Homo sapiens: one gene and its partners. The protein of the gene in region 1 interacts with the protein of each later gene in a biochemical or structural test. Each region holds a gene or a part of one and is shown in the gene's direction. Other genes may lie near its edges. The genes, in order: GABBR2, NSF and KCTD12.

Region 1 (10,665 bases):
CTAGCAAAATGTGGGTAAATCTGGACTATAAGGACAGTGGGGACAGCAGTCACAGGTGTGAGCACAGAAGGGCAGCCATGCTCTTCTACATCTTTCTTGGCCCAGGTGGAGGGTTTTGTGGTTGGTTCTGGGTAATGTCTTTGAGGAGAGCCATGAGCAGACTCTAGACTTGTGGCCAGGGGAGGTTTGGGGGCATTTCTCCCAAAGAAGAAGACTTGGCTAGAGGTGGAGAGTGAGGGGGTGCCTAGGAACTACCTCTGGGAAGGAACTGCCATGGGTGAGAGGGAGTGCTGTGGACTCCTGCAACAGGTTAAAACCCGGTAAAAGCTGTAGAAAGGCCTACTGGTGGAGCCTAAGAAAAAAATGTGTGAAAACCTCATGAATCAAGTAATGAAGTGGGAACCTCAGCAGGCACTGATCTTGCCATCTTTAGCAGTAATATAATTATTTATTACATGCCTAATAAGTACCTAGTACTGTGTTAAGAACTTTATATGCATTATCTTAATAAGGGAGATAATTACATGTAAAGTGGTTTAAACAGTGTCTGGCACATGTGAATGCTCACTATGTGTTAGCTATTGTCATTATCTAATCCTCACAATAACCCTATGAAAGAGGAACCTTTATTGTTCCCAGTTTACAGATGGAGAAAATGAAGCTCGGGAAGTTAAGTAACTTACTCAAAGTTGCACCACTAATACTTAGCAAGCCAGAATTTGAGGCCAGGGCTGCCTGACTCCAAAACTCACCACTGTCCCTAAGGGGTAAAGAGGGACTCATATGTTTGGAGGGGTAGGAAAAGAGGCTTCCTAAGCCTGTTCTTCGTCTAAGGTTCTGTTCTAAAACTCTCCCTCTTGTCCATCCTGGGTCCCCTTTGTTAATAATCTAATTGTTTTTGAAACCTCTAAATGAGAGAGGATTTAATCCCTGTTGCCAGTCTGTGTTGTTCTGGAGACCACCCAATTACAAGCTAAATGTCCTTTCTGTGTTCATTCAGGACCTGTCCCACTGACCTGAATCAATCTTCCACAGTTCTCAAACCACATGAAGAGTATGGGTAAAGGAGGAGGCTCTGGGCTCTGCTGGCCTGCCCTAGCCTTGCCGTTGACTCTTTTTTTTTTTCTTTGAGATGGAGTCTCGCTCTGTCACCCAGGCTGGAGTGCAGTGGCCCGATCTCGGGTCACTGCAACCTCCGCCTCCTGGGTTCAAGCAATTGTCCTGCCTCAGCCTCCTGAGTAGCTGGGATTACAGGCCCATGCCACCATGCCCGGCTAATTTTTTTTTTTTTAGTAGCGACAGGGTTTCACCATGTTGGTCAGGCTGATCTTGAATTCCTGACCTCGTGATCCGCCCGCCTCTGCCTCCTAAAGTGCTGGGATTACAGGTGTGAGCCACCGTGCCCAGCCGCTGTTGACTCTTGAAGGATTTAGTCATAGACTCTCCAGGCCAGACACTCTCCTCCCTGATAACCCAAAAGAGGACCCAGATTCTCTTTAACTCAGTGGAGTTCCCTGGTTAGCTCATTTCACTTCTTTCTGGTGTGGACCCTCAGCAGTGTTCTTTGTCTCTTTAAGGCTGTCCTATTCAGTTCTATAAAGGCATCTTCAAGGAGAGGCAAGTAGAGCGGAGACAAATGCAGGAATTTGGGGTCAGGCAGGACTGGGTTTGACAGGACTGGTCAGACAGTACTGGGTTTGGACCCCCTTGCTGCCTCTGCCAAGTATCATTAGGCACACCATTTCATCAAGCTGTACCTTAATCTCTTAATTTGCAAAACTGGGATCCTAACACCAATTTTTCAGGCAGATGTGAAGATTAAGATGATGCATACCAAGGTGTCTGGCACAGAGTAGGTAGGTGTTTAATAAATGGTAGCTATTGTTATTACTCAAGCTGTGTCACCAGACCACATATGATACCTGAAACCTAATTTTATGGTTTAAAAAACATGCCTTGTGAAAAGGGATATGCAACTTAGATTCATTCAGTTAGTCTTTTTTAGAGCCATCATTCATAACTTACCATTTTTAAAAAAGCAAGGAAATGAAAATAAATAATGCACTTCAAGAAAAAAAATAGGCTGCCAACTACTTGGTTGAAAGAAACATTTCCATATAAACATGAATGAGAAATAACATGGGAGATGTTTGCAAAGATGGCATGTGTGTGCCTATGTGTGTGTATGTAAACCATACACACACACACACACTCTCTCTCTCACACACACACACACAATTGCAGCTCCACCCTTCCAGTCTCAATCCTATATATTAGTTTGGTACAAAAGTAATTGCAGTTTTTACCATTACTTTCAATGGCAAAAACTGCAATTACTTTTGCACCAACCTTATATCAACTATATATATATAGTTTGTTTTGTTTTAAAGAAGAAAGTGAGAGAAGACCTTGCTGCTGTTAGGAGTTAGAGTAGAGGCAGGCATGGATAACAATCAAATGGGGAAAAGGGTGTTAAAAACTGGACCCAGTTCCTGGAAGGAGGCAGCTCTGGAGGGCAGATCTGAGCAGCCCTGGGTGGCACAGGGTGTCAGCCCAATAAGGAAGGAGAGCAGACAGCAGAGAAAGGCCTGGTTAGCTTCCCAGCATCAGGATCCTGTTCAAAGGGATGGAGTGTCATGTTGACAGGGAGCCAGCTGGACCATGGAGCCCCAAAATCCCCAGAAAGGAAGCGGGCACCATCTCTCAACCTCTGAGCTGGGGTTTAGAGACTGGCTTCTGTGTGTAGGCAGAGGGTTTGTGAGAAAAGATTGCTAAGGAAACAGGATTATGCAAACAAGATAATAATTTAAGCCATACAGACCTGGGCTAACACGGATGTTTCATTACTTCCTGGAGGTGCAACCTGAGCACGTTGCTTTCTAAGTCTCTATTACATCTCTTAAAAGGTAGATGAGTTCAAGGGAATCAAGTGTTTTCCACATTCTGGGACTTGGCCAATGCATTTTATTCCAATTAATAAGAAGCACAATGATTAGCCAATTCTCATCCTCTCTTCTGCTTATACCCTGGCCTGGCCACCAAATGTGCTTATTGTAGTAGAGACTCCTAACAGGTATTCCTGCTCACGCTCTTTTCCCCTGCTAACGGTTCTTCACTCTACAGCCAGAGTGATCCTCTTAAAATACATCAGATCATGTCACTGCTCCACCCAGTAGCCTCCCACGGTTGCTGTTTCATGTGCCCTCCCAGTGCTGAGGCCCCATACAGTCCTACCTGCCTTTGACCTTGGATCTGATTGCTTTCCCTTTGCCCACTCTGCTCTACCACATTGGCTTCCACATTGTTCCTTGAACATGCCAGGCACACTCCTGTCTCGGAGCCTCTGCCCTTGCTGTTCCTCTGCATGGAACACTATTCGCCTGTCTCTCTTACTTACCTTCTTTATGTCTTTGCTGAGGAGTCACCTTAGTGTGTCTTTCCCTGACCTCCCTATTTCAAATTGCAGCCCCACTCTGCCAGTCTCAATCCTCTTTCCTGCTTTTTTGTTCACCATAGCACTTTTCATAAATGGGCATACTAACATATCTTCTTCTTCCTATTTATTGTTTCTCTTTCTCCACTAGAATGTCAATTCTACAAGGGCAGGGATTTTGTTCTGGTTTTTTCCTTCCTATATCATCAGCTCCTAGGACAGTGCCTAGCAGGTAGCATGCCCTTCAAAACACTGGTCAAAGGAATGAATGATTATTATAAAGCAAGACGCTGGACCCCAGCTCTGGAGGAACATGCATTCTAGGCTGGTGACTGAGGCAGGAACTCAGACTCAGGAAGCACATCAGGGATGCAGTTACCCAAACTGTAATACCAGGCCAGAGTAAGATCTTGGAACCAGAGGGATGCCCAGGCATTAGGAGTGGGCTGTGAGATCAGAGATTGGCCTGGAGCCATGCTGATGGAGAGTGAGATTGGTGCCCCCTGGGTCAGGGCAGATCCCAGGTCATGCGTCTTGGGGCCAGGTCACCCCACCATAAAAGAAGACAGAGGGGCTGTAGGGCAGGATGCCAGGTAGGGCCTTCAACCCCTTAGTAAATGTCAGGCAAAGTTACCCAGCTTTCAACTTATTCCCAGATGTAGGTGTCAGTGGACACTCTATATTGGCACAGCTTGCAAGGAGGACACAAATGACTAAAGGAAAGAATTAGAAAAAAGAAAAAAACCAAGTGAAAATGTTCATTCAGAAACCTGAGCTAAGGGTTTGAGGAATGGCAGGTGCCAGAAGACTATGACTGGAGGATATTTGTGATGTCAAGTGAGACAGCAGTTGAGCGAGTATCTGGGGATTACACTGTCCTTTGGACCATTTCTTTCCCTCCCTCCCTTCCTTCCTCCCTTCCTGGAGGAGATGCTCAGGTGAGTTCTGTTCATGCAAACCCTCCAGCTTGGGGAAAAGGAAATGCCAAGTGGAGCCGGGAGAGGTGGAGTCTATAGAAGCCTGGAAAGAGAAGTTAGGGCAGAGAGAATTTGGCCTGGTTTCCCTGGCGCTGTCCAAGGTACTCTCTAGTAGTTCTGCTCAGCCTCCACTCACATCTTTGTGCTTCCTAACAACTCAGCCTGGATTCAGAGCTGCCCTTGCCTCACTCCAGTAGAGCTGGTGTGTGGCCATCATCATCATCATCCGGTCCAAATCCCTCACCATATGCCGGAGGGAATCGATGTCCAGAGCAACTGAGTCAGGGCAGTGCTCCTCCTGGAGAGGAAACTTGCAGTCCCACATCCCTGGCTCCCACTGCACTGTGCACGGAGTTCCTGCTGGCTCTGGGTTCCGGTCCTTCAGTAGCTCTGTGTGCTTCCACTAGCTACAGAACCTCTCTGAGCACCAGTGTATTCGCCTGTAAAGTAAGGGTGAGTAACACAGTATGCTTACAGGGCAGTTGTGGGGATTACATCATAAGGCACACAGTAAGTACTCAGCGAAGGTCAAACTTCCATTCTTGTTACAAGGTCGTCGATATCTTCCACAGTCCCTGGTTCAGGCTCAAGTATGTTTTGTGATTTGATGTCCTACTGTGTTCCTCGCATTAATCAGCCCCTGGGACTTTATAGATTAATGATCACGTTTCCTATTCTTGAAGTATGCAGAGGCACAAGGAACCCAAGGTCTTAGGTCAGCTCACTCGGGTACATCTGGCTCGGGACTGCTTTGGCTAAGATTGGCCAGTGCGACCTGGCAGAGAGAGGGCCAAGTCCAGGGGCGCGCGGCCCCGCCCTGGCCTGAGGATAGTGCTCCCACCCCGGGAGACTTCTAGGGCGGGGCCCATCAAGAATGGGGACGCGGGGAGGTCAAATGCCTGGAGGGGGCGGTAGCGCACGTAAGGTTGGGACCCCAGCTTTGCTTGGGGTTGGCAAAGGGCGGTCGCTCCGTCTGGTGGGGAGGAAAGGGGTGTCCTCAGCCAAGGCCCTAAAGGCCGGGCAGCCTGGCACCAACGGGCGTTCGAGCACCCGTGGGCGTCTTCAGCGACCCCCGGGACTCGGTCAGGGGCTCGTGGGCGCCAGAAAAGAACGGGAGAGCGTAGGCTGCAGATGCCTCTGGGACGCCTTCGTGGAACATTCTCCTGCCCAGACCTTCCCGGCCAGACCTCCGAGAAGCGGTTCCAAACCACCGTGCAGGTGCTACAGGCAGCGCTCGGCGGAGCGGCGGCGGCCACTGCGTGTGCCAGCGCGCGGTCCCGGTTCCCAGATCGCTGTCCCCGGGCGCTCTGGTGCCTGGAGGTCAGCGGTCGGCGGGCAGCGGCAGCTGGCGCAGCGGAGGGCCGGGGGCGCGTGTGTGCGTGTGCTGGGAAGGTGGCCCTCCCCGCGGCCGCCGCAGCGCCAGCGCCTCCCCCTCCCCCGGCGCGCACGGCTCGTCCCCGTCCCTGGAGGCGGCCCGAGCCGCCCCTGAGCAGCCTCGCCTTCGCCTCCCGCGTTTCCTGCCGTCCGCCCTCCCCCGGCCGAGCTCCAGGGGCTGCCGCCTAGCAGCTCCCGGCGGGAGAGCGGTTCAGAGCGCGCACGGGGGCGGGCGGAGGCGGCCCGGTGCGGGGCGGCCGCGCTGGAGAGAGGCGCGCGCGGAGACGCCGGCCCCCCTCTCCGCGTTTGCTCGCTTGCTCCCCGCCTCCCGCACTCCGCTCGCTCCCACCCCTTCCCGGCGTGATTGATCCGTCACGGGCGCCGCCGCTGCCGCCGCCGCCGCCGCGGCCGTTCTGAGCCGAGCCGGAACCCTAGCCCGAGACGGAGCCGGGGCCCGGGCCGGCGCCATTGCGCGGGCGCCGCGGGAAGACCTTGGCGCGGGGCGGCGGGCCGGGCCAGGCCATGCGGGCCGAGTGAGCCGGCGCCCGCAGCCCGCGGCGCGGCATGGCTTCCCCGCGGAGCTCCGGGCAGCCCGGGCCGCCGCCGCCGCCGCCACCGCCGCCCGCGCGCCTGCTACTGCTACTGCTGCTGCCGCTGCTGCTGCCTCTGGCGCCCGGGGCCTGGGGCTGGGCGCGGGGCGCCCCCCGGCCGCCGCCCAGCAGCCCGCCGCTCTCCATCATGGGCCTCATGCCGCTCACCAAGGAGGTGGCCAAGGGCAGCATCGGGCGCGGTGTGCTCCCCGCCGTGGAACTGGCCATCGAGCAGATCCGCAACGAGTCACTCCTGCGCCCCTACTTCCTCGACCTGCGGCTCTATGACACGGAGGTGAGTGTCCGGCTGCCCCTGCCGTCGGGGCTTCGGGGGGCATTGGGGTGGGTGGTTTGGACACAGGCAACCTCCGGCCTTTGGTCAGATCCCCGATTGACCGGCCCGCGCCTGCCGAGGGCAGAGAGGGCTGGTGCCCAGTGTTCACCCCCGCGGTCCTGCTGGGCTTGGCTGGCACAGCTGGTAACATTTGCCAAGCACCCCCTCCTCTGGTCTTATGTGTGTATGTGTGTGTGGGGAGGGGTGGGGGTGGGATAGAAGACTGGGGTCTCTTTTGACCAGAGAAAAAGGAGTGGAGAAGGTGGGGGCTGGACCCCCAAAGGCCTACATTGATTGTCCCTGTCCAGGTCCCGCTCATGGGGCTGCGAGGTACCGAGTGGGAGGAACAGGCGCATTGACTGCAAACTGGGCCACCCAGGGCCGGAGGGGCCGCGGGCCTGCTCACAGGCCCCCAGGGAAGCCGAGCCGCGCTTTGAGGTCCGGAAGGCTCCGGAACCCAAGGGGCTTGAGCGTGCAGCGTGGCTGGGCGCCTGGTGCGCGCCAGCAGCTCTGAGCCCGCTCCGCGCGGGCAAGTGTGGGGCCACCGGCTCTGCAGCGCTTCTGCCTGGACGTGCCCGGCGCTGCCTGTGGCCAGAGCGATTTCAGGAGACCCCTGCCTCGGGTTAGTTGCTCAGAAAGTGCCCTGGCAGTTCTCGTCCCGGACGTGCAGTGGTGTCCGGCCGCGCCGCTGCTGTTGGCCGGGCGGCTGCAGGCAGTTTCTCACGGCTCAGGCTTGAAGCATCCGACCTAGCAGCCGGAGCACAGACTTGGAGAGCAGTCCGGAGCGGAGCCAGAGAGCCAAGGGCTTTCCATCCCAAGACCCCTCCCCACGCCCTCGGTTTGGGTTCTGCCTGAAGCCCCAGAGCGGACCTTCACCGCCAGGCCGGGGCTGGAGCGCGCGGAGCGGGTCTGGAGGAGCGATCGCTGGCCGCGCAAGGTCGGGTTTGCGAGTTTTTCCGGACCGAGCGAGCCCCTGTGCTCCGACCGCAGCGTCTGAGACGCGGCCTGAAGGGGGCAGTGATTTCCTGTGCAGTACGCTCGGTTGGCGCCTCTTCCATCGCGCGGAACGGGGCCGAGGCGCTGGGCTTGATCCTGGCTTCCTGGGACTCTCCGGGCGCTTCTGCTGGAGTCCAGGTGCAGAACCCTTTTGGGAGGAGGGTCGCGCTACTGCTCTGGTGGTGCAATCTGGGCTTCCCCTCCTCCTTGGTCGGACCCTCTTTATGTCCCCAGAGAAAGAGCAGAATCTAGATTGTATCTTATTCCCTGCCTCCCCCGCTTCACCGGTGAACCAGCTTGCTCTGCGCTGTAAATAAAAGGTGAAGGAACCGGTGGCAGTTGGCAGCGGTACGCGCAGGCTGCTGCAGGCGGAGAGGCGTCCTCTGCCCCAGAGGATGCAAGCTGGCTGGCTGTGCAGGGCTAACCCGGTGTGAAATCATTTCCGAATGACATTCCTATCGCCCTCGTCTTTGCCTGAGCATCTCAAGTTCTGTGGGGGTACTTGTCTGGCACACATAAATGGAGACAGCAATGCAGTTACACGGAGGCATATCTTCTTGACAGTTTCTCTGTTGCTACTGCACATATTCTTCTGGAGGGGTCACTGCAAAGCCGGTCTTTTGGGGACAAACACATTTTTAGATAGGGCAGCCCTGCTTGCATCATCACCAAGTATTGTCAGCTGCATAATGTTTTCATCATCAGTTTCTTCCCTTTAGAAAGCTTCCCTGAAAGAGATTTCATACTGGCCTGTTTGTGGCAGCAAAGAGATGGGTGCTTCGTTTCAGGGTGTGGGTTGAAGCCTTTACATTTTATTTTTCGAGTGTGTCTTGATGACTTTCTGAGTGAAAGGACCCAAAGTCAAGAGGATGAGACAGTCAGAAGACTCTTCAATTCGTGGGAATATTTAGAAAACAGTGGGAAGGAAGACAGAAGATAATTTTAGCTTCGTGCAAACAGAGAAGTGTCTCTAGCCTTTTGAAGGGGCCCAGAGCCAGGGCTTTGGGGTAGGTGGGGCCTGGGTTTTAGTGAGAAACTGGTTACTTTCCACCCTGGATGACCTTGAGCTGGGTATTTAATCTCTCTAAGCCTAGGTGGGAATATTATGTGTACTCTGCAGGTGACACACAGCTTAAGGAAGATAACAGGCCAGGGTAGAAGATGCCCTGAGCTGGCAGGCTCAGCGGCCAGTGCTCTGGCATGCTGTAAGCACTAAATAAATGTGTCCTGCTGCCTCCCCTCCTCCTCCTCCTTCTTTTTTTTTTTTTTTTTGTTTTTTTTGTTTTGTTTTGTTTTTGTTTTTTTGAGATAGAGTTTTGCTCTTGTTGCCCAGGCTGGAGTGCATTGGCGTGATCTTGGCTCACCGCAACCTCCACCTCCCAGGGTCAAGTGATTCTCCTGCCTCAGCCTCCCGTGTAGCTGGGATTACAGGCATGTGCCACCATGCCCAGCTAATTTTGTATTTTTAGTAGAGATGGGGTTTCTCCATGTTGGTCGGGCTGGTCTTGAACTCCCGACCTCAGGTGATCTGCCCACCTCTGCCTCCCAAAGTGCTGGGATTACAGGCATGAGCCACCGTGCCCAGCTCCCTTCCTTCATTTTTATTTCCTGTGAATTCACAAGTGGCCTTATCTTTAAAGTAGAGGTGCTTTCTCCCTGAGCCAGAGTGAAGGAAGGATCAGTCTAGGTAATTTGCAGCAAAATCTAGAGCGATCTAAAGAATGTTTGTGGCTAGTGTTAGAGTGTTTAGGGTCTAGTTTATTCAGATTGGCTGTCTTTGTGGACACTGCCTAATTATTTGCAGGCTGTGTCACATTGTTTGTAGACTTTAACACAGGGTGGATGTGGTGAACAGATTTTGGCTGGATTTGCTGACATTTGCTGTCAATCAGTGGCCTCAATGGCCAGTGACTATGGGCACCAGTATGGACCTTTATCCATATGATCTGCAGAGAGATGGAGATTTAGCAAGGAATGGGTTAATCTGGTCCCTGGGGACAATCTGTCTCAATAAAGGAGCCTCCTACAACCAGATTGACTCTCTTCTGTAAGTAGAATAGTGGTAGATTTTCAAAACCTCACTCAATGCCATGTGTTGGTAAAAATGAAACAGCCTAACAGAATACCTGTCTATCAGAACCTCTGCTTCTCTGGTGTAACACCAAATGGCTTCAGCAAATACTCGTTTATATATTCCAATGAGGATTTGAACAAGCAAGACAACTGAAAATACAGATAAAAGAAAGCATCAGAAACTATGTAGAAGCATAGAAGTTACTATACCAAGAACCTGGGCTAAAATTTATTGCATTGAGTATTATATTTTAGCTCTGAGCTTCCTGGCAGTCAAGGTAAAAAGGTAAATGTACCATATTACTTAATGTTTGATCTAAAAAATCTGAGAGACAATGACTTTTTTTTTTTTTTTTGAAAGAGTTGGGGGTCTCATTCTCTTGCTCAAGCCAGACTGCAGTGGTACATCATAGCTCACTGCAGCCTTGAACTCCTGGGCTCAAGTGATCTTCCTGTCTTCAGAAATGTTCTCCATGTGATTGTTTCTTATTCTAGCCACACTAATAAAATAAAATAATAGCCAAGGAATGAGTTAAAGATATTTTTTTTCAATTTGATTAATGTTCATTGTGGAAAAGCTGAAAATTACAGAGAAGCATAAAGAAAAATAATTGCCCATAATCCATCTACACAAAAATAATAACATCTAATAATTAGCATCATTCCCTTCCAGTTGTCATTTTTTACTATTTTATGTACTTGAGATCATACTCCATGTGCTCTTTTATGTTTTTTTCCTTCAGTTAACATTGTATCATGGGTTTTTCCCCATGTCCTCAAATCCTCCTTGTAAAGATGATTTTTGGTGGCTGTATACTATTCTATCCTGTGGGTGAACCATACGTATTTAATCATTCCCCTATTGTTGGACCTATATGTTTTCTCATG
Region 2 (9,930 bases), on another chromosome or scaffold:
CCCTTCAACCTACTGCAGTCTGATTTCTGCCCCATCATCCCACTGAAACCTGTCCCTCAACTTAATTGATACCTTTCAATCCTTATCTTATTTGATATCTCAGCAGCGTTTGACGTTGTTGACCATGGCTTCCTTGACGGAAAGCACTCTTCACATGTGTTCTGGAATGCCTCGCTCCTGGTTTGACTCAGACCTCTCTTTTGCGGCCTCACCCTCCTCTACTTTGTTATTCATTGCTGGTATTCCTCAAAGGCCGTCTTCTCACTCTCAATTTCCCGCTCAGGCAATTTCTTCTAAGCCCATAGCTACAACTGTCTATATGCCAGTGATTCTCAATATTTTACCCCCAGTCCAGACCTGCCCTTTAAGTTTCAGGTTAATATGTCCAACTGCTTATTTAAAATCAAGGTCCCGAAACGCAGCTTTTTCAACTCCGAACCCAGGATCTTAGCCCACCTAACTTGTGTAGATACTCCTCGACTTAACGATGGGGCTACCTTCCGATAAACCCATTGTAAGCTGAAAGTATCAGAAGTTGAAAATGCATTTAATACACCCGATCTACCGAATATCATAGCTTAGCCTAGCCTGCCTTCCTTACACATGCACAGAACACTTACATTAGCCTACAGTTGGGCAAAATCATCTAACATAAACCTATATTATAAAATGTTGAATACCTCATGTCATTTATTACTGTGCTGATAGTGAAAAACAGAATGGTTGTGTAGGTCTTCAAAGTACAGTTTCTGCTGAATGCCTATCACCTTTGCACTATTGTAAAGTTGAAAAATGTTAAGTCAAACCATTGTAAGTCAGGGACCATCTGTACCTATCCAGTGAGATAGGAATATCTCACTGAATGATACCATCATCCACCCAGTTATATAGGCTGGGAATCTGAGGGAGGGAGAGGGTGGGTAACCCTTTATGTCTCTCTTTTGCTGTACCCATGTCCTCTGCCCTATCCCCCGGTAAAATTTGTCAGAGTTCTGCTCCTGCCCCCCATAAAGGTATTTAATTAGGGCCAAAGACTCTGGTTTGGGGGAATGGTTGCTTTAGACTAGTTCCAAGTCACCCACTGGACTATCTGGATTGGTCACATGGGTTCTGTCATTTTAACCTAAAAATCTCCAGTCTGTCCACCTTTCCACATCTTCATTTTTACCTCCTTTTCCCAAACTACCATCATTTCTGGTCTGGACTACTGCAGGAAGCTTCCAAGTATTTTTTTGTTCGTTTGTTTGAGATGGAGTTTCGCTCTTGTTACCCAGGCTAGAGTGCAATGGCGTGATCCCTGCTCACTGCAACTTCCGCCTCCTGGGTTCAAGCCATTTTCCTGCCTCAGCCTCCTGAGTAACTGGGATTACAGGCGCCCACCACCACACCCGGCTAATTTTTGTATTTCTAGTAGAGACGGGGTTTTACCATGTTGGCCAGGCTGGTCTCGAACTCCTGACCTCAGGTCATCCACCTGCCTTGGCCTCCCAAAGTGCTGAGATTCGTGCCCGGCCTCCCAAGTAGTCTTCTTAGAGCATGTGGCCCACCTCCAATTCATTCTTGACCTTCATTGTTCCTTCCCGTGCCTATTACTACTTAAACCCCTCCTCAGCAGCATCCCATTACTTTTGGGAGAAAACCAAATCCTTAATGAGGCCTTCAGGACTCTTTGTGGTTCTGCTCCTGCTTCTTTCCACTCATTCTCTTACTCTGTGTGCTCAGGTTATATGGTAAACGAGCCTTTCAATTCCTTGAACCTGTAGTTTCTCTTACCACAAGGTCTTTGCGAGTGGTGTTTCCTTTCTTTGTAACGTTCTTCCCCCCAACCATTTACCTCCTACTCAGACATCACTTAGCTACTCAAGGGAGGCCTACTCTGACCCCACATTATAAGTCAGGATCCTTTGTTATATACTCTTGAAGAACTGTATTCCTCTCCTTAGAGATTTATCTTTTTGTTACTTTGAGTGTGTGTTATTATTTGCTTCTACCACTTCACCTCAGTGAAAAGCAGAGAACATACAAGTTATTTAGTCATTATCAACTGCGCTTTGTGTACCTTGTGGGACTTAGGTACTCAATACATTTTTGTTGAAAATGAATCAGTCTCTGAACACTCTGGTGATAGATGGTATATTACCCTAAAGCTTGCCTGTAATGTCATACAGCTATGTTAGGTCTTTGTTATCTGGAGTTCCATGTAACTTTTATACGTAGTTACTATTTCTGCTGTTTCAAGCCATACGGAACTAAACACAATTCTTTTTCCATGTAATAGCTACTCAAGCTACTCATTTACTTGAATACAGGTTACATATCTCCTCAGATTTTCGATTTTGCAAGTTAAACATCCCCCAATTCCTAGCATATTTCATATTCCAAACCCTTCATCATTTAGGCTACCTTCCTCTGGAAGTAACCTAATGTTACTGTTTTGTCAACCTTTCTTCTAAAATGTGCCCAGAGTGGAACACAGTGATCAGAGAAGAATGTACTTAAGCTATTATTGTCTTGAGATGGACACTACCATTATTCATACCAGATAAAATTGTATTAGCGTTTTTTCTATAGTAAATCACATTCTTGGCTCATACTGAGCTTGTAGTCAGTGAAAACTCATGTTCTTTTAAAATCAGCTCCCTAGCTCCATTCTAGGTTTAGAGCAGTTTTATTGAACCTAAATCAAGACCTTATCCTTTTACAATTCATTTTTTTAGGTCAGTGCATGTCTGCTGTTTGTTGAGGTAATCTGGATTCTTAGTTCTTTCATGTTAGGAAACATAATAGCTGTCTCTTCCAGTTTGGTTAGATCTGTAGGTTTAATCATGACTTCTGTTTCTACGTTTGAGTTATTGGTAAAGGATAGAATAAGACAGGGTCAGAAATAACCCTTGGACATGCTGCCAGTGACATGCCTCTAGACTGATACCCATTAATACACTTGGGCACTGTTGCTTAAATACAGATGTGTCTCATTTAATTCCAACAAAACAACCTGCAAAGTAGGTAGTATTATCTTTGTTTTTTTGCAGAGAGAAAGAGAGAGAGATTTAGTAACTTGAGAAGTTCACATAGCCAGCAAGAAGCAGGGTCAAGATTTGAACTCAGATCAGCCTGGTACTGTTACCTAGTTCACCAGCTTAGTTGCAAGAGTGTAGTAAAGACTAGGTTTACCTCACCTAGAACTTTTTGGACATAATAATGTTCAGAAACTATCTTCTACCTTTTGGAAAATCTGAAAAACTTTGGCCCATCTGATTGTCTATCATTTCTTCTGATAGCCTTTATTTTCTAGTAACTACTGAGTGATTTTTAGCAAAAATAGTTCACCTTGTTGCAATACTTTTATTTGTGCATATTTATGGAGTACATGAAAATTTTTTTACATGTGTATAATGTGTAGTGATCAAGTCAGGGTACATGAGTCCAATGTATTAAGTATAGTCATCTACTCAGCTATCAAACATTGAATTTATTCCTCCTATCACTGGATCTTTTTTTTTTTTTTTTGAGACGGAGTCTTGCTCCGTCACCCAGGCTGGAGTGCAGTGGTGTTATCTTGGCCTCACTGCAACCTCTGCCTCCCGGGTTCAAGCGATTCTCCCGCCTCAGCCTCCTGAGTAGCTAGGATTACAGGCATGTGCCACCACGCCCAGCTAATTTTTGTATTTTTAGTAGAGACAGGGTTTTACCACATTGGTCAGGATGGTCTTGGACTCCTGACCTGGTGATCCACCCGCCTTGGCCTCCCAAAGTGCTGAGATTACAAGTATGAGCCACCGCGACTGACCTCATTGGATCTTTTTACCTTTTAACCCACTTCTCTTCAGCCTTTCTCTCCCTTACTCCGCCTTCCCAGTCTCTGTTATCTATTTTTCCACTCCCTGCCTCCTTGTGTTCAAATTTTGTAGCTCCTACATATATGTGAAAGCATGCAATATTTGTCTTTTTGTGCCTGGCTTATTTCACTTAAGAGAATAACCTCCAGTTCCATCCACATTGCTGCAAATGATATGATTTCATTCTTTTTATGGCTGAATAGTATTCCATTGTGTACATGTATGACATCTTCTTTATCCATTCATCTGTAGATGGACACTTAGGTGGTTGATTCCATATTTTTGCTATTGTGATAGTACTGCAATAAACATGCAAGTGCAGCTATCCCTTTGATACATTGATTTCTTTTCCTTTGTGTAGATACCCAGTAGTGGGATTGCTGGATGGAAGGTAATTCTATTTTTAGCTTTGAGAAATCTCCATACAGTGTTCCTTAGTGGTTGTACTAGTTTACATTCCCACCGACAGTGTATGTGAGAGTTCCCTTTTCTCTGCATCCTTACTAACATCTGTTACTTTTTGTCTTTTTAATAATAGCCATTCTGACTGGGGTAAGATGATATCTCATTGTGGTTTTGATGTGCATTTCTCTGATAGTGGTGTGGAACATTTTTCCATGTCTTCTTTTGGCCATTGTATGTCTTCTTTTTTAATGGGATTATTTGTTATTTTCCTTTTGAGTTGTTCGAGTTCCTTGTATGTTCTGGATATCAGTCCTCTGCTTGATGAATACTTTGCAAATATTTTCTCCCATTCAACAGGTTGTCTCTTCATTCTGTTGATTATTCTTTTGCTGTGCAGAAGCTTTTTAGTTTGCTTAAGTCCCATTTGTTTAGTTTTCTTTATGTTACCTGGGCTTTTGATGTCTTAATCATAAATTCTTTGCTTACACCAATGTCCAGGAGTGTTTTCCCTAGACTTTCTTGTAGTATTTTTATAGTTTTGGGTCTTAAAATCTTCAATCCATTTTGAGTTGATTTTTGTATATGGTGAGAGATAGGGGTCTAGTTTCACACTTCTGCATGAAGTTATGCAATTTTCCCAGCATCATTTATTGAAGACAGTGTCCTTTCCTTAGTGTGAGTTCTTGTCAGTGTTGTTGAAGATCATTTGTCTATAATTATGTGGTTTTATTTCTGGATTCTCTATTCTGTTCCATTGGTCTACATGTCTATTTTTATACCAATACCATGCTGTTTTGGTTACTATAGCTTTATAATATATTTTGAAGTCAGATAATGTGATGTCTGCAGCTTTGTTCTTTTTGCCCAGGTTTGGTTTGGTTGTTTGGGCTTTTTTCTTTTTCCTTTTTTGGTCCCATATGAATCACATTGGTATTTTGATAGGGATTTCATTGAATCTGTAGATTGCTTTGGCAATATGGTCATTTTAGTGATATTAATTCTTTCCACAAGCATAGGATGTTTTTTGATTTATTTTCTTTCATTGGTGTTTTGTAGTTTTCTTTGTAGAGATCTTTCACCTCCTTAGTTAAATGTATTCCTAGGTTTTTGTTTGTTTTCGGTAGCTATTGTAAATGGGATTGCCTTCTTAATTTCTTTCTTGGCTAGATCCTTATTGATGTATAGAAATGCTACTGATTTAAAGGTTTTCTAAACCTACAGATATATAATCAGCAAAGAGACAATTTGACTTTCTCTTGTCCAGTTTGGATGCCTTTCATTTCTTTCTCTTGTCTGATTGTTCTGGCTAGGATTTCCAGTACTGTGGTGAATAGGAGTGGTGAAAATGGGCATCCCTGCCTCATTCCAGCTTTTAGAAGAAAGATCTCACCTCTCCTCATTCAGTATGATGTTAGCTCTGGGTTTGTTGTGTATAGACTTTATTATTTTGAGATATATTCCTTCTATGCCTAATTTGTTGAGAGTTTTTTTAATCATGAAGGGATGTTGAATTTTATCAAATGTTTTTGTTGTTGTTGCAATACTCTTTTTTTTTTTTTTTTTTTTTTTTTTTTGAGACAGAGTCTTGTTCTGTTGCCCAGGCTGTAGTGCAGTGGCGCGATCTTGGCTCACTGCAACCTCCACTCACTGGGTTCAAGCAATTCTCCTGCCTCAGCATCCCTAGTAGCTGGGATTACAGGCCTGTGCTACCACACCCAGCTAATTTTTCTATTTTTAGTAGAGACAGGGTTTTGCTATGTTGGCCAGGCTGGTCTCGAACTCCTGACCTCAAGTGATTTGCCTGCCTTGGCCTACCAAAGTGCTGGGATTACAGGCGTGAGGCACTGAGCCCGGCTGTTGCGATACTCTTAATGGGTTTTATATTTCCTTTTTGTGGGGGACAGTTTATTTTGCATTCTTACTACTTTTGATATTCTGACATCATCTTATAAGTGGGATTTATATTCACTATGTAATTGAAGTTTTTTCCAATGAAGCACCGTATATAGTTTATCTGGGAAATTGGCTGAAGAATAAAATGTGTGATGTTATTCAGTGTACAGTTTCTAGGTCATCAGAAGATACCACTACCTTCCCACTACTGGAAAAGAAAAAAGAAAAGTTTTCCACAGTGCCTGAACTGTTTTGTATGCTTATCTTTTAAAATTGCCAGAAATCTCACTTACTGGAGATTCAGCAGTCCCTTTCTGAAAATACACATACTTTAGTGCAAATAAAGCCAGTGGATCTCTTTCTTCATAAGTCCTTAAACCTAGTCGAGGTCATCTGTTTGGCAGAGATAGGAGTAAGATAATGTGAAATAGGAACCAACGAGAGAGAACTTGCTTAGGAGTTGAAAGGGGTATGGAAAGATGTTAGAGGTAAAATTTGTCGAATCTAGTGTTTTGACTAGGGCAGGCCAGAATATTCAGTATCAGTATCAATATCAGAAGCTTTTGTAGCCTTTGTTTAGAAACCTAGTCATTTATAACATTTTGTGGGTGAATGACATCATTACCAAACAAACTTTCAGATGAAACTTTGGAACTCAAGCTGTAAATTGTGGATAGCTCATGTGCAGTACTACAAATCAAAACAAATACTATAAAGTGTTTGGTAGTCCATTTCCTGAATGAAAGTTTGTCCAAAGTATATCAACTTTCTGCAGTCTTACATGCAGTAGTTATTAGTTTTGTGTATCGCTTTAGTGGATATTTTTAAAAGTATCTTCAAATGCAATGAATTTTAGGAAACAAAACAATTCTTTAAAGCATCATTAGATAGCTTCTTCTTTCTGAAACCCAGAGGAATTTATGTATAGGATGACTCTTTTTTTCAAGTAGTTAAGTTAAGGTGCAAAAGTATAAGGTAAAGTATATTATCTTACCATTGAAAATTTTGGCAGTGGCAGAAGAGCGAACCCTTACAAATACCTTCATTGGGCAATACACTAAGCACTTGCTGTAATGCTTTTTAAAACATCTATACTCTGGCTGTGGTATTTTAAGTGAAAATCTCTCAGTGAGATACTCTTTCGTATTTTAGTACTGATATCCTTAATATTGCTCTGAGAGCTACCTTATACTGACTTCAGTTTCCTAGTGATTTAAACTACTAATTTCCAACTTATTTTTTTTTATAGTGAAAACTAAATATTCCTTTTGTAGATGTAACCATTTCTGGAAGCCCTAAGTATTTTTGAATGAGTATAATTCATGCACACTTTAAGAGATTTCAAGCATGACAAGCACAGTGAATAACATATATCCATGTGATTACCACTGAGGTTTAAGAAATGTTAACATATGATATCTGCTTCAGATATTTATCTTTTTAAAAATAGAACATTACAGCTGGGCATGGTGGCTCACACTTGTAATCCCAGCACTTTGGGAGGCTGAGGCTGGTGGATCACCTGAGGTCGGGAGTTCGAGACCAGCCTGGCTGACATGGAGAAACCCCGTCTCTACTAAAAATACAAAATTAGCCGGGCATGGTGGCACATGCCTGTAATCCCAGCTACTCGAGAGGCTGAGGCAGGAGAATCGCTTGAACCTGGGAGGCAGAGGTTGCGGTGAGCGAGATCACAACTCCAGCCTGGGCCACAAGAGTGAAACTCAGTCTCAAAAATAATAATAATAAATAAAAAATAGAACATTACAGATCCAATTGACTCTTCTTTGTATTGCTCCTTTTTTTTTTTTTTTTTAGTTTTATTTAAAAATTTTTTTTAGAGGCTGAGTCTCACTTGGTGGCCTGGGCTGGAGTGCAGTGGCGCAGTCATAGCTCACTGCAGCTTCACACTCCTGAGCTCGAGCAATCTTCCTGCTTCAGCTTCCTGAGTAGCTTGGACTAGCAGAGGTGTGCCACCACATCTGGCTAATTAAAAAAAAGTTTTTAGAGATAGGATCTCTCTGTGTTGCTCAGGTTAGTCTCAACACCTGGCCTCAAGTGATCCTCCCACCTCAGCCTCCTGAGTAGCTGTGGTTGTAGGTGGCAGCCACCACACCTGGCAGTATCCCTTCTTGAGACCACTGACCTTTCCCAGAAGTAATCACTGTCCTGAAGTTGGTATAGATTCTTTCTGTCTACATCTATGCATGTTTATGCTCAAAAACAATATATTGCTTTGTGTGTCTTTAAAATGTATATAATGGTTTTATGCTATATCTTTCTTTCTGCAACCTGCATTTTTCACTTAAAATAATTTTGAAATTTAGTCCTGTGGATATATAGTGAGCCAATTAATTCTGCTTAGCTACTCTGTAGTCTGTTTTGTGAATATACCACAATCATCTACTTTCTTATTAGAGGACAATTTAGGCAGTTCCAATTTTATTTTTCCCGGAATGTACATTATTTTAGTCGAGTGCCATTGCCACATTAGCGATATTTTGGTTAGTGAGGGACTGCAGATAGGAAGGTGATCCCAAAAGATTATAATGCCATATATTTACTCTACCTTTCTATATTTACATATGTTTAGTTACACAATTACCCATTATGTTACAGTTGCTTACAGCATTTGGTGCTGTAACATGCTGTACAGGTTTGTAGCCTAGGAGCAATAGGCTATACCATATAGGTTTGTGTAAGTACGCTCTATGATATTCATATAACGATGAAATCACCTAGTGACACATTTCTCAGAATGTATCCCTATTGTTAAGCAACACATGAGTGTGTGTCTCCATGCATATATGTGTAAGAGTTAGCATGTGTGTCCAGAGGTAGAATTGCTGGGCGATAAGTCATACTCATCTTTACCTAGTTATGCCAGTTTATACTGTCACTAGCAGTATATGAGTACCTGTTATTTATATCCTCTCCAACACTTAATATTGCTGACATTTTAACTTTTACAATATAATAGGTGTAAAACTATTGTTTAAATTTGCATGTTGTCCTCATTACTAGTGAGATTAAGCATTTTTCATATTGGTCATTGGGATTTCCCCTTCTGTGAATTACTTTTGTATATTTGCTCATTTTTTCTGTTGGGCTGTGTATTTTTTTAGTGATTTGTATAATTTTTCGTTTTTTGGGGGGTAGGGTATGCTTTGGATTCTAATCCTTTGTTGTAAATAGCTTCTCTCAGACAGTGATGGTCTTTTCATGATGTTTATAGAGTGTTGGATTTAAATTTTATAGTTATAATTACCCTTTTTTTTTTTTTACCTTGGTGATTTGTGCTTTTATGTGTTTTTCAGGAAATCTTTCTCCACCCTGAAGTCATTTTCTTATAAAAGTTTTAAAATTTTGCCTTGCACATTTTGGTGATTGATCAGGAATTTATTTTTGTGTTTGGTGTGAATTATGAACTAATTTTATCTTTTCCATATGTATAACCAGTTGTCTCAATATCATTTATTGAGTCCATTTTTTTCCTTTACTGATTTGCAATGCTATCTCTGTATTATATCCAGTTCCCATATATGTGTGGGTCTAAGTGTCGACTCTATTCCGTTTCATAATTCTTTTTGTCCATATTTGCATCAATAACACTGTTTTAATTGCTGTAGCTTTAAAATTATTCTTGTTATTTCATAGGGCGTACTTTCATTACCTTTCTTAATTTGGCATTTCTTGGCTCTTTTCCGTATGAATTCTGGGAACAACTTAATCCCCACTCCTTTAAAAAAAAAAAAAAAGACACTTTGGCCTGGCATGGTGGCTCACACCTGTA
Region 3 (9,863 bases), on another chromosome or scaffold:
CATAAGTATAAAATAATAGGGTGATATTCTTGTGTAAATTGGCTTTGAAGAAAATTTCCAAACAAATGTACCAAAAATGGTGAGTGATTCCAGCATCCCTCAAAGGAGTATATAGTCTTCAAGGTGATTATTTTGAATGACAACCTTCATTTGGGTGTTAAATGGAGCTGATATGGCTGCTGAAGAGTTCAAAGAGCATGGGATATGAAATCAGGAAGCATCCACGTGCATCCCAGCACTGCATCCCAGCCACCTGAGAGGAGGTGTGAGTCACCTAACCTTTTTGAGTTTCTTTCTTCATTTGGAACACAGGTTGGTTAACACCTCACAAAATTGTGATAATTAAGTCAACCTGACAATATGAAAACACTCGAAACAGAAAAACACTAGAATGTGATTAGAATGTGATAACTTATATATAGTTCCTCTCTAAATTTAATATCATGATTGGAAACCAAGACTTTCAAATTCTTATGAAACATCAGTGATGTTAATAATTAGTCTTAGTCAGAAGTTCCAGAATCACTCAAGTGATGAGGGCCAGCTATTTTTGTGTTCAGTTTGATATGCAAAGCCACAAGTAGAATGCACTTGTTCAATTTTATGAGCCCCAGAAGACCAGTGGATACTGCTTGCTTTGGGAAACTGGAACCTAGATCTCAGCAGTTTCCATGGATTCACTTTATCCTTGTCAAGAGTTAATGAGATCAGAATAAAGCCAAATGAACATGCTAGGAACTTGGTGCTTTGCAAACCGTAATGATATTTGAGAGAGCCAGAAATAAAATCTTGTTTATTTTGTGTACAGGACTGAATTAGGGAAAGATTAGGACAATAGTGTGTCAGTTCTATCCAGGGGCTCAAATAGAGATTCTTATTTGGGTAAAAGTACACATGGATACAAGGAAGGGAACAATAGACATTGGAGCCTACTTGAGGGTAGAGGTTGGATGGAAGGTGAGAATCCAAAAACTACCTATCAGGTACTATGCTTATTACTTTGGTGATGAAATAATCTGTACACCAAACCCCTGCGACGTGCAATTTACCTGTGTAACAAACCTGCACAGGTACCCATAAACCTAAAATAGGTTGGAAGGAAAAAAGAAGGCAGAAAGAAGAAATAAGGGCCAAGGACTTGACTCTTTCTTAACCCTAGTTCTTTCAGGGTGGCTACTTTGAGTTTCTGGTTACCAGTACTGCGGAACACAAGCACGTAGACTTTAGAGTAGCATTTCTGCCCCCAGCAGAGATAAAGAGCTGTGTTATCTTGGTCAAGTTACCTTACTTCTCTTTGCCTTGGGTTTCTCATCTGTAAAGGGGGAAAATAATATAACTTACTTCTTAATACATGTAAAGCACTCCTAGAGGAAAGGGGATTTAAAATGCAGTGTTTAAAAGCACAGATTCTAAGGCTACACTGCCTGGGTTCAAATCCCAGCTCCAGCACCTATTTGCTGTATGATCTTGGGAAAATTAGTTCACTGTGCCTCAGTTTCTCATCTAAAACTTGGGTAATAGCACCAACCTCATAAAGTTATTGTTAGGATTAAATGAGTTCATACATGTATAGTTCTATAAATAGGGCTGGCTCATAGTAAGTACTCTATACATGCTTGTTATATTATTTGTTTCCTGGATAAGCTCCAAACACCATCTTAAGGGTATAGAAATATCAACATTGTTAACTTTTGTTTCTTTGTTTGGTTCTATAAATCATAAAAATCATACTCTAGAGATAATCATACAATGTTGGGATATTCTTTACTGTCTAGACCTGTTTTTTTTTTTTGTTTGTTTTGTTTTTTGAGATGGGGTCTCGCTCTGTTGCCTAGGCTGGAGTGCAGTGGTGCGACCTTGGCTCACTGCAACCTCTGCCTCTCAGGTTCAAGCAATTCTCCTGCCTCAGCCTCCTGAGTAACTGGAATTTAGACCTAGTATTTTGGCAGTGTACCCTATATAACATTTTGTTCTCTTTTCTTCAGGTTAAATATTGTCACATCTTTTACCAAATCTTTATTAAGATCATTTTGCCTCCGGATTCACTTAATGTTATTCAATTAATCTCTCCTTCTAAATGCAAAAAGTCAATGACTTCTAAAGCCTGCATGGAGAAAAGATTCACACATATTAGGAGGATGACAAATGGAATAAATATTTATTCAGGATAATTTCTGATTCTGCCTCTCTTCCCCTTTCCCCATAGTGTTCATTTTAATGTTTCTGCCATTCATTTGTTCATTCAGTATTTATTGGGAAGACTTGTCAAGCACCATGATAAGTGGTGGAAAATAATGATTCTGACACTTGAATGGTGTTTTACAATGTACAGATCATTTTCACATATATTAAATTCATTCAATTCTCAAAGGCACTCACTTCATTTCACCAGTTCTTCCTCCCCTTTAACTTTATATTTCTCTTCATGTTCCTCATTCCTTTCCTTAAATCTTTGGTATGCAGAATACAGTAGTCTCCTTTCATACAAAGGGTATACATTCCAAGACCCTCAGTGGGTGACTGAAACCGTAGGTAGTACTGAACCTGATTGCTGTCCATTGGAACATGTTTCTCTTCATGTCTTCAATCCACAAGTTTAATGCCTTTTCCATTTTCACTACACACTTATCATGCACTCTGTGCCATACGTTTTGTGTTTGGAGGTGTGACAGCAAAACTAGCACAAATTTTTCCTTCATAATTTCACAGAAATTTCACAATGTCTACATTCTTATCATAGATCTTAGCAACCTTGGGATGTAACTTTTTTTTTCTTATTAAATTGAGAACTTTCACCTTTTCACTTAAAGGCAGCATTTTATGGCTTCTCTTTGGCATATCTGAATTGCCAGCATCACTACTCTTGTAATTTGTGGCCATTTATTAAGTAAACTGAGTGTTACTTGAACACAAGCACTGTGATAGGGTGATACTAAGACAGTTGATCTGACAGCTGAGATGGCTACTAAGTGACTCATGGGTTGGGAGTGTAGAGGTGTGGATATTCATGTCCAGGGCAAGACGAAGCAGGACAGTGGGAGATTTCATCACACTACTCTGAATGGTGTGCAATTTTGAATTTATGAATTAGTTATATTTCTGGAATTTCCATGTAATATTTTCAAACCACAGCTGACCATGGGTAACTGAAACCATGGTAATGGAAACTTTGGATAAGAAGGATTACTGTGGGGAGTGGGAGGGGAAGCTGGTTTGAAGAGAAGGCAGTAGGTGGGGGAGAAGATGCAAATGAGATGAGAATGTAGGTCCAGAGATGTTTCCAGTATCCTCCACTTTAGGATCAAAGGACAGGTTACTTGCAGGCACACTGTATCTTATTCAGGAAAATACAAAGAGTTACTTGAAAAGGAGCAATGACCATCAATTAGCAATGACCATCATTAGAAACTGGTTTGAGACTAAACACAGGGCTAGTGGGTTTCCAAATCCTCCCCAATCCCTTGCAATCAAGCATATTTAACATACTGGAGATGCTAAAGAGTTATGACTCTCTTCTTATAAACACTCAGGCCCTCAAGTCCCAGCATCAGAGTTCCCCAGTAGTATTTCCTTTTGAATTCTGTGATACCAACCAATAGGCAAGAAACAGAACACACAAAATTAACTAGAAAAACATTCCTTGTGTTTCAAATCACCTGTTTCATTCATTATTATATCTCTCATGCATTACCTGGCTTCCATAAGGAAATACCAATGGCTTTTCTGCAGTAGACTAGCTGGTGGTTGATGACTACCTTATGTCAAGATGTAGAGAATGATGATAGTAGGCTGCAGGTAGTGAATAAGCACACGGTATCACTCACATTTGACTCTGTACTGATCATCTCAAGGGTACTTTGGAGATTCACAGGATACAAGTAGATGACACAATACATAAACTTTCAATGTGAGCTCACTCATAACTCAGGCCCCTTTAACTTGTTTGACCCTGTGCCTGGAATGCTCTTCCTCCAAAACTTCCCATGGCTGTCTCTTTCTTATTATTCAGCTCAAATGTCACATTCACAGAGATGCCTTCCCCAGGCACTCTGTATAAAGTAGTATTCCACACTCAGTCCCTCTATCACATCTTATAATTTTATTTTCTTTGTGGCATTTATCACCACCTGAAATAGGCTTACTTATCTTTATACTATATTTATTTGTCTCCCTCGCAAGACTATAAGCTCCTAGTGGGCAGTGATTATTTTTTAACATGCAGCCTGGAATATAGTAGTAGGCCCTGAATAAATAGTGGTTGAATGCTTGCGTGAGCAACAGATATTTATCAAATGCCTGTAATATACCAGCTCTGTTCTAGGCAGTGGGGGTGTGGCAGTGAACCAAGCAGACAAAAACTGCTGAAGTCTTGGAGTTTATATTCTGATGTAGGAAAAGAGTCAACAAATAAGGCAAGGAAGAGGAAGCTGCAGTGAGGCTGTGCTGCATTAAGAAGTGGAATCAAGGAAAGGTCTTGCTGGGCAGACCTGAAGAAGGTGAGAAGGGAGGGACCTGAACAAGGTGAGGAACACGGGAGGGAGGAGAAATGAGACTTTTACAAGGATGTGCAAAGGCCCTGAGAAAACAAGAAAGGGGCTATGTGGCTAAAGCCAGCCAGCTCCTGGGGGCAGGGCAGGAGATGTGTCAGAGAGGTGCTGGTGGGATAACTCCAAACATGTAGAGTCTTGTAAGCCACTGAGAGGACTTTGGATTTTGCTCTTTCTGAGATAGGAAGCCACTGGCAGGCTCTGAGCAGAGTGACATACCAGCCTTGGATTATAAGCAGGGTCCCTGTTTTTGTTCTGGTGATACAAGACTGTAGGAGCAGAAGTAGAAGCAGTTAGGAGACCAGTGCAATAATCCAGGCAAGAGATGATGGTGGCTTGGTCCAGGGTGATGATAGGGAGATGGTGAAATACGTTAATAGTCTAGAAAGATTTTTAACACAGAGCTGGCAGGATTTGCTGATGCAATGAGCAATGGTAATTATACAAAAATATGTGCAGAACTGATACAAAGAAGGCTTTTCTTGGATTTGTAGAAAAGAGGCTGGTTTTGTCAGGTCTCTGACACTAATATAACGCCTAGTAGCACAACCACCTCGAAATCCTGCACTGGGACTTGGAAGTTTTGTGTTATCTATTATTTATCCCAAAGAACAGAACAACAACAAAAAAAGAATGTTGAAATACATTCAGTATCAAAATCTGTACTTGCAATTAAGATAACTGGTTTGGGGGTTGATCTCATTTCAGCACACTGACATGAGCGCGGTAATTGTTGAGCAGATATAAACATTTCAAAATAAAAATGACATTTATCTGTGAGGAGACTGTGAAGCTCACTGGGTAGTTACACAGAAGGATAAATTTTATCAAGAACAAAGATCTTGCCTGATTTATCCTGATGTGTGGTCTATACTTCAAACTGATGTGATAACTGCGCAGACCCCTGACCCTTTGCTTATTGGGCTACACTGAAAGCGCTTTGGAGATTATTCGCCTTTGCATTCCTCACTCCCTGGTGCCCTGCAAATAATAGCAGGTACACAAGAAACATTCAGTGACCCAATCATTTCTTGACACCCTCCTCTGCACTCTTCTCTTTTTGCAGCATTCAGGAGCTCTTACTTATTTTCATACCCAAATCAGTGATCAGATAATCACTCATAAATATGACATTTCAGAACGTGCTGGGAGCAGCGCAGACAGTGTGTAGGGAGCCATCCAGAGGCCCCACCCACCTGGGAAGCCAGGGAAAGCTTCCAGGGGGAGGGGGCGGTTCTGTGGGCTGCAGTCCGAGGGGGAAAAGCAAACGTGTAGGCAGCAGGAGTTGAGAGATGGGATCCAGACAAGGGCCTTCAGATATATAAATATCCCTTTCTGAGACTGACGGGAACTTGGACAGGGCCGAAGAGTGACCGAGGCATGCGGGAGAGAAGGGGCGCCTGGACTTTTGGAAGGATAAACATGCAGGCGCCAAAGGTGGCTTTAAAAATTACGTTAGATCTGCAACTGTTGTGAGTCTAAGGGCGCGATTCAACGAAGGCTGAATGGGACCCGGAGACCGAACGTTCCGGAGTCTTACCCCTTCACTTCGAAGTGAAGTGCCTCGAAGGCCCTGCGGGAAGAGGGAATTGCAATTAAGAGCAGATTTGAAGCTTCATCTCATTTTGTCTCTGCAGCCAGAAAATAAACTATCGTAAAGCATCCTACTGCGGGACACTGAGGTTTGCTTTTTGTTTCTAGGTTTATTTATTTATTTTCCAGGCTGGCTGCAAGGCAACTTGAACAAAATCTGGCTGCGCTCGGACTGGGGCGGCTCTTTCGTCTCTCCAGGTTTTTCGCGTCTCTCTACTTTCAGTGACACGACAACCAACGATGGCAGGCCGCAGCTGCACTGCTGGAAGCGCCCAGTTCCGCAGGCGGGAGGGCCGGAGGCGGCCACGCATTTCCACTCCCGGGGCGACAGGCTTCCGAAAGTTCACGTCCTCCTTCCAGAGTCCTTGGGTGCGGGCTGGGGCGAGAGGGGAGGGGGCGCGGTGACTGTCCCTCCAAGGAGCTGTCTTCCGAAGCCGCCAAGTCTCGGGCGGGTCCTCTTCGGAAGAGGGAGAAAGTTGGGCGGGACCACGGGGCGGGGCTGGTGGGTGGGGAGCGGGTGGGAGTCCGGGCGCCCCCAGCGCTCGCGAGCCGGGGTGGAGCCAGCAGCCCCGCGTGGCGTCCGCGTTTAAGATGCAAATCGAGTCCCCGCTCCCCACCTCCCCTCGCCCGGTAAGCGAGGCTCCGCCGCCGCCCACGCCTCCTGCGCGCCACGGCACCAGAGCAGGCGGCTCTACTTAAGCAGCGCGCGGGCCGCGACCCGGCACTCGCCTGGAGCGCGCGGGCAAGGCGGGCGGAGCGCACTGGAACTCAAGGGGGCGCACAGCGGCGCGCTCGCACCGCTCGGCTCCGCGCGGCTCTAGGAGGTGGCGGCGGTGGCGGTGGCGGCGGTGGCGGCGGCGGCGGCGGCGGGGCGCAGGGCTGAGCGAGCGTCCGGGTTCCGGGGCTCCGGGGAAGGCGGTTGCAGCTCCTGAGTGCAGCGCGGCTTCCTGCCACTGTCCCGGCCCGGCCACCTCTCTGTCATGGCTCTGGCGGACAGCACACGTGGATTACCCAACGGGGGCGGCGGCGGGGGCGGCAGTGGCTCCTCGTCGTCCTCCGCGGAGCCACCGCTCTTCCCCGACATCGTGGAGCTGAACGTGGGGGGCCAGGTGTACGTGACCCGGCGCTGCACGGTGGTGTCGGTGCCCGACTCGCTGCTCTGGCGCATGTTCACGCAGCAGCAGCCGCAGGAGCTGGCCCGGGACAGCAAAGGCCGCTTCTTTCTGGACCGGGACGGCTTCCTCTTCCGCTACATCCTGGATTACCTGCGGGACTTGCAGCTCGTGCTGCCCGACTACTTCCCCGAGCGCAGCCGGCTGCAGCGCGAGGCCGAGTACTTCGAGCTGCCAGAGCTCGTGCGCCGCCTCGGGGCGCCCCAGCAGCCCGGCCCGGGGCCGCCGCCCTCGCGGCGCGGGGTGCACAAGGAGGGCTCGCTGGGTGACGAGCTGCTGCCGCTTGGCTACTCGGAGCCCGAACAGCAGGAGGGCGCCTCTGCCGGGGCGCCGTCGCCCACGCTGGAGCTGGCTAGCCGCAGTCCGTCCGGGGGCGCGGCGGGCCCGCTGCTCACGCCGTCCCAGTCGCTGGACGGCAGCCGGCGCTCGGGCTACATCACCATCGGCTACCGCGGCTCCTACACCATCGGGCGGGACGCGCAGGCGGACGCCAAGTTCCGGCGAGTGGCGCGCATCACCGTTTGCGGAAAGACGTCGCTGGCCAAGGAGGTGTTTGGGGACACCCTGAACGAAAGCCGGGACCCCGACCGTCCCCCGGAGCGCTACACCTCGCGCTATTACCTCAAGTTCAACTTCCTGGAGCAGGCCTTCGACAAGCTGTCCGAGTCGGGCTTCCACATGGTGGCGTGCAGCTCCACGGGCACCTGCGCCTTTGCCAGCAGCACCGACCAGAGCGAGGACAAGATCTGGACCAGCTACACCGAGTACGTCTTCTGCAGGGAGTGAGCTCCCCAGACCCCCTCGCCACTCCAGCGCCCAGTCCTTCTCCTGCCCGAGAGATGATTACAGAGCCTCTTGTCCCACCTTTGTCCCCTGGCTGCTGCCCTCCCATTCTCCCCCTCCAGTAGTAGCTGGGTGAGACCTGTCCGCCCACCTTCCCTCCACTACAGAACCTGCAGCCGCAAATCCTCTGGGCTGCTTCGTCTTCTTTGGACCTCCTGAACCGAGAGAACCCAGAGGAACCCCCACCCCACCCCCACCTACCACTCCATGCTTTCTCTACTCCCTGCCTCAAACCACCCCTCCCCCAGATGGTACTTCAGTTTGGATCTATTGGGGGAGTGTGGCCACAGACCGGGGGATGATTGAATTGTTCAGAACCTGATTGGACCGTGTCCAATGTGCGGAAGATTTCCTTGAAATCTTCTCAAGCTCTTATGACTCACTGGGGGTTTAAGAGATCAGGATTGGTTCCACTGTCTGGGGTTAGTGTTTTACAAGGTCATTACACAGTCTTTTTGACCTCTTTTGAAGGTAGAGTTTTAGAAGGCTGGATGGAAGATTCTGAGCCTGGAATTAGGACCCCATGGAGGCAGTTCAGTAACTAAACTAATAAAGTTTTGAAAAGTTACACGTAAAGTAGAAGAATCTAGTGCGTGGGACAGTAAAGGATCCTTTCTCGTACAGAATAAAAGGTCTCAGCCTGTAGCTTAAACTTATAGAAAGTGATCCGCCTGCCTGCAGAGGCGCCCTTTTCAGCTGCTGCTCGCCAGAAGCCCTTGATTCCACTGGTTGACATGGCAGCAGTTACTGGCAAGAGGGAGAAAGGACGCTGCCGCCTAAGAGTGCAAGGCTGCTCAGGTCTCCAAGCGCCGTAGGAGGTCACCTGGCAGTGACTGTAGGGAGCTGGGTCATAGTGCACGTCGTGGGTATTAGGAAAGCCTGTATTCTTTCAATGAATGTCAGTAGGACCTTCCTTTAGCTGTAAGACTTGGTGGGCGGGGTGGGGTGGGGAGGGAGGAAAGGGTAGGAAGGGTGGGAAGGGAGAAGCAGACATAGTCATTTATGATTTGAAAGTTGGAAGTTTGTACCATCTGTTTGAGTATATGCACATTTAAAAAATATCATATAGTAAATGCAAACATGCCAAGTATTTTATAAAGATTAATAACAGACCTACTCTTACCTGGCAGTTTACTTAACTTACTGTTTTGAGTCCTAAACTTAGAGTTGTTAATGCTTATATATAATCTAACCAAAGAGTTACCCAGTAGGGTTTTAGTTTTTGAACTTTTATTTTCTTGTTGATTATAAATCCTGATTTTGGAATCTATTGCGCAAAAGAAGTTTCATTTTGGTTACTTAGACCTAAGATCACTTATTAAAAATCCTTATTTTCTCCAAGCCCAGCAAACGTTGACTTCTGGGCAAACCTGAAAACCTGAAAATGCCACTTTCATGCAGTTTGTTTGAAGTTAAGTGGAATCCTTTCAAATGACGAGCTGCAGAGAACTCAGCACCAAGGGCTGCCTATCTGTAGATAGCTGTAAAATGGAATATTTTTAAATGAAGGCAAATAAGTACTTAAAAGTGAGCTGAGCAATAAAATGGTCCAATAATAGGTAAATGCAACAGAAACAGAAGGAGACCTGGTTGCCTTATGCCTTTACTCTTACATGGAATAAATTCCCAATGCATATCCTATGTAAACCATAAGTGAAGGGAAATAAACCTCGTCATGCTCCATGCTGTGAGGTGTCCTTTGGATATT

What was found.
Region 2: the proteins of GABBR2 (region 1) and NSF form a complex in vitro, tested with the Homo sapiens proteins (one study listed by IntAct).
Region 3: the proteins of GABBR2 (region 1) and KCTD12 form a complex in vitro, tested with the Homo sapiens proteins (2 studies listed by BioGRID).

The regions. Positions count from the first base shown.
Region 1 is NC_000009.12:98,704,421-98,715,085, reverse strand, and holds the start of GABBR2 (gamma-aminobutyric acid type B receptor subunit 2 precursor), read left to right. Parts: upstream 1-6,150; 5' UTR 6,151-6,348; coding exon 6,349-6,669; intron 6,670-10,665. UniProt on the Homo sapiens protein: Component of a heterodimeric G-protein coupled receptor for GABA, formed by GABBR1 and GABBR2. Within the heterodimeric GABA receptor, only GABBR1 seems to bind agonists, while GABBR2 mediates coupling to G proteins.
Region 2 is NC_000017.11:46,591,999-46,601,928, forward strand, and holds part of NSF (vesicle-fusing ATPase), read left to right. Parts: intron 1-9,930.
Region 3 is NC_000013.11:76,883,406-76,893,268, reverse strand, and holds the start of KCTD12 (BTB/POZ domain-containing protein KCTD12), read left to right. Parts: upstream 1-6,863; 5' UTR 6,864-7,120; coding exon 7,121-8,098; 3' UTR 8,099-9,863. UniProt on the Homo sapiens protein: Auxiliary subunit of GABA-B receptors that determine the pharmacology and kinetics of the receptor response. Increases agonist potency and markedly alter the G-protein signaling of the receptors by accelerating onset and promoting desensitization.